2 linked regions of the Homo sapiens genome follow. The protein of the gene in region 2 purifies or fractionates together with the protein of the main gene of each other region. This does not show direct contact. Each region holds a gene or a part of one and is shown on either strand. Other genes may lie near its edges.

Region 1 (3,654 bases), on a different chromosome or scaffold from region 2:
GTTGTCCACCTAGAGTTTTCCATGTAGTGCCTGCAATAGTGCTGTGGGGTGGGAATTATCATCCCCATCTTACAAATAGAAAAACAAAGTCTTACAGGGGTTAAGGAGGTTGATTAAGACCATAAAATCTGTGAGGTTTCAAAGCCCCAGTATTCGAGCCTAGTCCATCTGACTTCCAAGTCTTGGCCTGTAACCACTGCAGTGTAATTACTGCTAATTAAGTTTTACATACACGGGTTCTTTTAGATAAGAAATGGCATACTGTTGGATAATAGACCTCTGATCCAGAGGAGGCCCAGAAAGTACAAAAGCAAAGGTGAACTCACAGAACAAGTGGCTTTGGCACCACGTGTAGTCAGCTCCTGCTATAATTAGGTGCTGTGACCTTACTGTCGGACTCTACATGTTGAGCTAATTAACTAGAATTGAAAATGAAGGATGTATGTTATCCATAAAAATTTTTTATGGCGCGTTCAGGGTGATTTTTGCTTCTGCTGCAGGAGAGAAAAAGTGGAGCCTGGCAGTTCTGACCCTGATCCCTGTGTTTCTCAGGTTCGTGGTGCACGGCTTAACCACGGGAGAGCAGTACATCTTCCGAGTCAAGGCGGTCAATGCTGTGGGGATGAGTGAAAATTCCCAGGAATCAGACGTCATAAAAGTGCAGGCCGCACTCAGTAAGTCACTCACAGGCTGTTGTGTGCCGATTGCTCCCATACACTGTCATTTCTGCATGAATAAACATTTGTGATGCCATTTGGAATGTCATTGAAGGGGAAAAGGGGACTAAATTCCTGAACAGAGAACTTGAGTTTCTTTGAAGCCTCTCGGTTGGCTGCTTGTCTTGGAAATGACAGTGTGAGAGGGAGAAATGATAATACACTAATAAAACGCAAATTAAAAATAGAAAACATTGTTGTTGCCAAATACCTGTACTCATGTTAAAATATATGCTGTAGGCTGGCGCAATGGCTCATGCCTGTAATCGCAGCACTTTTGGAGGCCAAGGTGGCTGGATCATGAGGTCAAGAGATTGAGACCATCCTGGCCAACAAGGTGAAACCCCGTCTCTACTGAAAATACAAAAATCAGCCTGGCATGGTGGCGGGCGCCTGTAGTCCCAGCTACTCGATAGGCTGAGGCAGGAGAGTCACCTAATCTGGGAGGCGGAGTTTGCAGTGAGCCAAGATCGTGCCACTGTACTCCAGCCTGGGGGGACAGAGCAAGACTCCGTCTCAAAAATATATATATGCTGTAGGGGATACATTTCTCTTTTCAAAATATGTGCTAAAATACAGCAACATCCATGACCTTTTTAGCTGTTCTCAGTTCTAGGAACTTTAGTCACTTCAGAGAATGTCATATTTATGTAACTTTGAGACTTTGTTGGTAAATAGTGGTGTTTAACAGTTTTTATTATTTTGATCAAACGAGACAATTGGGATCCTAAATCTCAGGGACCGTCCCTAGAACAGTTGCTGTATCAAGCTGTGCTGCAGCCTCGTGGCTTTCTGTTTTCTCATGAAATGCACCTCAGGAAGTCAGTGCGCATACTCAGAAACATTTTGAAACACAAATGCCACATGGGACACCCTTGGATTCACAGGGTTATCTTCCCACTTCAGAGGGAACTATGTGGCTCGTTGATGATTTTTCATCTTTGACTAAATTTGCAACATTTTCAGAAATTAAAATTTATCTTCTAATGATATTGCTGTTGGATTTCCAAGGAATGTCAAATCTGATAACATCTAGCTAGGTACAATAGCGCTGACTCTTTTGTTTTAAGATTAATCTCCTCTCAATTTTTTCCAGGAGGGACTTTCAAACATTCCCATTTTCTTTTTAATGTCATTCCTACTAAAGGAAAACCACTTTCTTTTTTTTTTTTTTTCGACGTAGAGTCTCGCTCTGTTGCTCAGGCTGGGGTGCAGTCGTGTGATCACAGCTCCCTGCAGCCTTGAGCTTTTGGGCTCAAGTGATCCTCATGCCTCAGCCTCCTGATTAGCTAGGACCACAGGCACCACCACCACGCCCAGCTAATTTTTTGATTTTTTTGTAGAGATGGGGTTTTACTATGTTGCCCAGGCTGATCTCAAACTCAGGAGCTTAAGCAATCCTCCTGCCTCGGTCTCCCAAAGTGCTGGGACTACAGGCATGAGCCACCGCACCTGGCCTGTTTTTATTCTATGATAAGAATCACTTAATTCCAGTCACCTGTGTCTCAGGTAACAGAGGATGGCCACATTGAGGTGACTCAGAGCTGGGGCAAGCAGACTCAGGCCCATCCGTTCTCGACCTGTTAGGAGAAGGCGGTCCGTTTCAAATGCCCTGCTCAAACAGGGAAACACGGATTCACACTCATTTGAAGGAACCTGAAGTTCCTCTAACTGTGCAGGAAATTAAAACAAACTGGAATCGTATCTGTCATCTCTGGCCACAGATGCAGAATAGTTATTCCTTATGGTTGTAAAAGTGAAAGCTCCTTCGCCAAGCTTCTTTCAAGGGGCCGAGAAGACAGAACATCTTCTGCTGTGTCAAATGTTCATACCAGATTTAAACCGTTCATCCTATGGAAGCCTTAGTAGATACACTTAGAAATAGCAATACATATATATGAGATAAATTTTTATTTATTTTTGTACTCATCCCCTTTAAAAAGGTGTAAAGACCAAGGTGGTTAAGTGTGGGTTGAGAGGGATCAGAGGGCACAGTGTTCAGGCCCGTCTCCACGTTGCTTCCTCCTCCCTCTGCCACACTGGAGCTGGCTGCCCCGGGGACAAAGCCCCCAGCTGAGGCCCTCGGTAACTCCCTGGTTGTGCTTCCTTGCAGCCGTCCCGTCCCATCCTTATGGGATTACGCTCCTCAACTGTGACGGCCACTCCATGACCCTCGGCTGGAAGGTCCCGAAATTCAGTGGTGGCTCGCCCATCCTGGGCTACTACCTGGACAAGCGTGAAGTTCACCATAAAAACTGGCACGAGGTCAATTCCTCACCCAGCAAACCGACAATCCTAACGGTCAGTTGGTTTTTATTCCTTCGTCTATTTTTGCCTGGGTGGTTCTTTACATTTTTGGCAATGTTTCTGCGTTTGATGACATTAGATAGTTTGATACAGACACAAAAATGGATTAAAAAATAGCATCATGAGATCATGAAGTTTTGGAGCTAAAAAGATCCTAGGAATCATATTCTTTTTCTTTCTGAGAAGCAGTGAAGAAGGGAGCTCAGTGATGGAGTGGGCCTGACAGTGAGTCCATGACCTCTGGTGTGACCAGCATCTGGTCCCAGTACCTGTGGTAATGTCCCTTGTTCTAGGCTCTGAGGCCTTGAGGGCAGGGACGGAGTCTCACATGTGTGCCTGAGGGGAGGGTCACGCTGAATGTCTGTTTAGGAAGAGAGTAATGTTGGCTCTCTGCTTGTCACCCACCATTTCCCTGAGACATTCTTGTATTTCAGGCCTCCCAGAGAGTCCCTTGCCTCAGTGCCCCTGGTGCTCAGGTGCAGAGTGTGGCAAGGACATCGACTTGGAGCTCAGAGATCTGGGGTCAGATCCAGACACCCCCTTGGCAGCCATTGCTCTGTTTCCCTGTCCGGCCCTTGACCCCTCATCTGAGCATAGATGAATGACCCTCATCTCACACTACAGCTCCCGT
Region 2 (2,752 bases):
ACAAGGGCTGTCACATGGTGGCTTCTTAGACACTGAGTCAGAGAATATGTATGCTGTGCTCAAGGGAGAGGTCCCAAGATGCCTGGGTCATGTCTCCCTCTTCCGCCTCCGCCCTGCTGTCTGTCCATAGGCTGAGCCTTGTCAATCCTGTGGCAGCCCATGGAATGGCTCTCCCCTTGTGTACACACATACACACACATTCACACACACACATTCACACACACACATTCACACACACACACACATTCTCACACACACATATTCACACACATTCACACATACACATTCACATACACATTCACATACACATTCACACACATTCACAAATACACATTCACACATACACATTCACACACACACATTCACACACACATTCTCACACACACATTCACACACATTCTCACACATTCACACACACATTCACACATTCACACACACACATTCACACATACACATTCACACACACATTCACACGCACGCATTCACACGCACGCATTCACACACACTCACATTCACACACATTCACACACTCACACACACACATTCACACACACACACACATACACACACACACCCTTTCTCCACCTTGGTGGAAGCAGGATCAAGAGAAGGGAGTACAGGTGGGAAGAAGAAAGAAAAGCCGAAGAAAAACAAGGCTTTTCCAGAACTCTTTTGGGGAGCAGAAGAGAAGCCTGGGCTGGAGAGAGGTCAAAGATCTGGCAGTCCCACCTCATCCCACCCAACCCCAGCCCCATATCCCAAGAAGGCTGACCCACCTGCAGCCACTGATCGTTACCGTAGCTCCCCGCAACCCAGGCGTTGAAGTTGCCCTGCTTGTCCAGCCGTGCATAGGAGGGGTTCCAGCTGAAGAGATGCAAGCCCCAGGTCTTGTAGCTGCTGGAGGCCGTGATCTGCTTGTCAGGGATGCTGTTATTCTTCAGGCCCAGGGGATTGGCGCATCCTGCCAGCAAGGTGGGCTGTCATCTGGATCTGGGATCCACAGCTCCCAGGGGCAGGAGCACAAGGCGATGAAGCAGAAAGAACTCTGTGGATCCTGACCAGCCCCTGTCATGCTCTTGGGCAACAGAAAGCAGCTCCATCCGCCTTGCAGGGCCAACTGTGCGACCTTCTCACTGCCGACCCCACCACCTCCTCACCTCAACCAGCCGGGCTCAGCTCCTCACAGATCACCCAAGACCTCCCACTCACCACCCTTCTCCTCTGCACCAGGGAAGGCCCCTGCTCCACCACCTCCTGCCCTCCTTCAATGCCTGACTTTGGAGACACCTCCTCCAAGAAGTCTGCCCTGACTACTTCACTTGGGCAGGATTTCTTCCTCTTCTGGACTCACAGCACTGCCCCCATCGCCTCGGCCTCCCATCCGTCCCATGGCACAGTCACTATCTACTTTAATAACAACCACATTGTTTATTCAGTGCTTACTTCAGTCATTTAACCTGCCACCAAAAAAAAAAAGAAAAAAAAACACTAAATGAAGTAGAAATTAGTAAGCCCATTCTATAGATGAGAAAACTGAAAGACATTAAGCATCATGCTCAAGTCACATACAAACTCCTAATGTCACACTATGACGTCACCTCTACCAGCTACACATCCCAGCTAGATGATGAAGGCCTGCCTAGTGACGACCCAGTGATGAACAGGACAACATCCCTGCCCTCCAGCAGCTGGCAGTTAGAGAAATCAGACAACTCCTGGGGCACAGGAACATCTCTATTTCCATTCCCCAGAAGCCCCCTGACTTAGTGTCTCCCAGAGGGCCTTCGCACACTCAAATGTTCTGGGGATGCTGTCACACAGGCCTGTGAGGGCTGGCCCGGGAAGCTGGCCTTTGTTTCACTCAGCCCTGCCCCAAACACTCAGGAATGTGCCGGGCTGCCTTGCACTTGTATCTGCACCTGCATATGGATAGAACAGTTGGGGATGGGCAAGAGATACAACTCCCAAGAGAATGATGGGGGTGTCTCCCACCTGGAAGAATCCTCACTCCACAAGTGTCTATCCCTCTGGGGAATTGAGGGAGGCAGGAGTGGACGGTGGGACTGGAGAGCCCCCTGCCCTCTGGGAGCCAGCTAAGTTATATCACTGCCCTCCAATACTCTCACCACTCAAGAGTACTGGGAGCCAGCTAAGTTATATCACTGCCCACCTGTACTCTCACCACTCAAGACATTTGCCTCCAGGGTGTGTTGACAATGCCTGCTGATGGTACCATCATCTCCTGATGGTGATGCACCAGGGAACCACCACCTTCCCCCTCAAAGAGAGGCTCCCGGGCTGAGAGCTGGTTGTCCCTTGGCCCCAGAAGAGGAGAGGCCTGAGGCAGGCTAAAACCTGGGCAGCTTTGCAGAGGACACCAATTCTGCACAATGTGCTCAACGCAGACCCCTCTACAGATCATCTGCTTCTAGTGGTTCATACCCTCCTCACTCTCAGCCTCCCCAGGAAGTCAGACAGCCTTTCTGGTAAAATGCAGTTGGAAGGGGCACCAGGGCAGGGACAGGACTGTCAGCTCCAGCACTCTAGGAAGTCCCTTCCTCTCTCTGGCTCTCAGTCTCCCCATCTATAAAATGAGATACTAGGGGAGTAATTCTCACAGATCACCTGGGGATCTTGATATAAAAAAAAAAAGCTTATGTTTCAGCAAGTCTAGGCTGGGGCTTTCAGTCTGTATTTCTTTTTTTTTGTTTTTTTGTTTGTTTGTTTGAGACACAGTCTCGCTCTGTCACCC

The links.
Region 1: the proteins of MFGE8 (region 2) and MYOM2 purify together in Homo sapiens (co-immunoprecipitation; one large-scale study listed by IntAct). This does not show direct contact.

The regions. Positions count from the first base shown.
Region 1 is NC_000008.11:2,093,418-2,097,071, forward strand, and holds part of MYOM2 (myomesin-2), read left to right. Parts: intron 1-552; coding exon 553-674; intron 675-2,829; coding exon 2,830-3,017; intron 3,018-3,654. UniProt on the Homo sapiens protein: Major component of the vertebrate myofibrillar M band. Binds myosin, titin, and light meromyosin. This binding is dose dependent.
Region 2 is NC_000015.10:88,900,775-88,903,526, forward strand, and holds part of MFGE8 (lactadherin isoform a preproprotein), read right to left. Parts: exon of another isoform or gene 1,409-2,752; intron 962-1,408; coding exon 777-961; intron 1-776.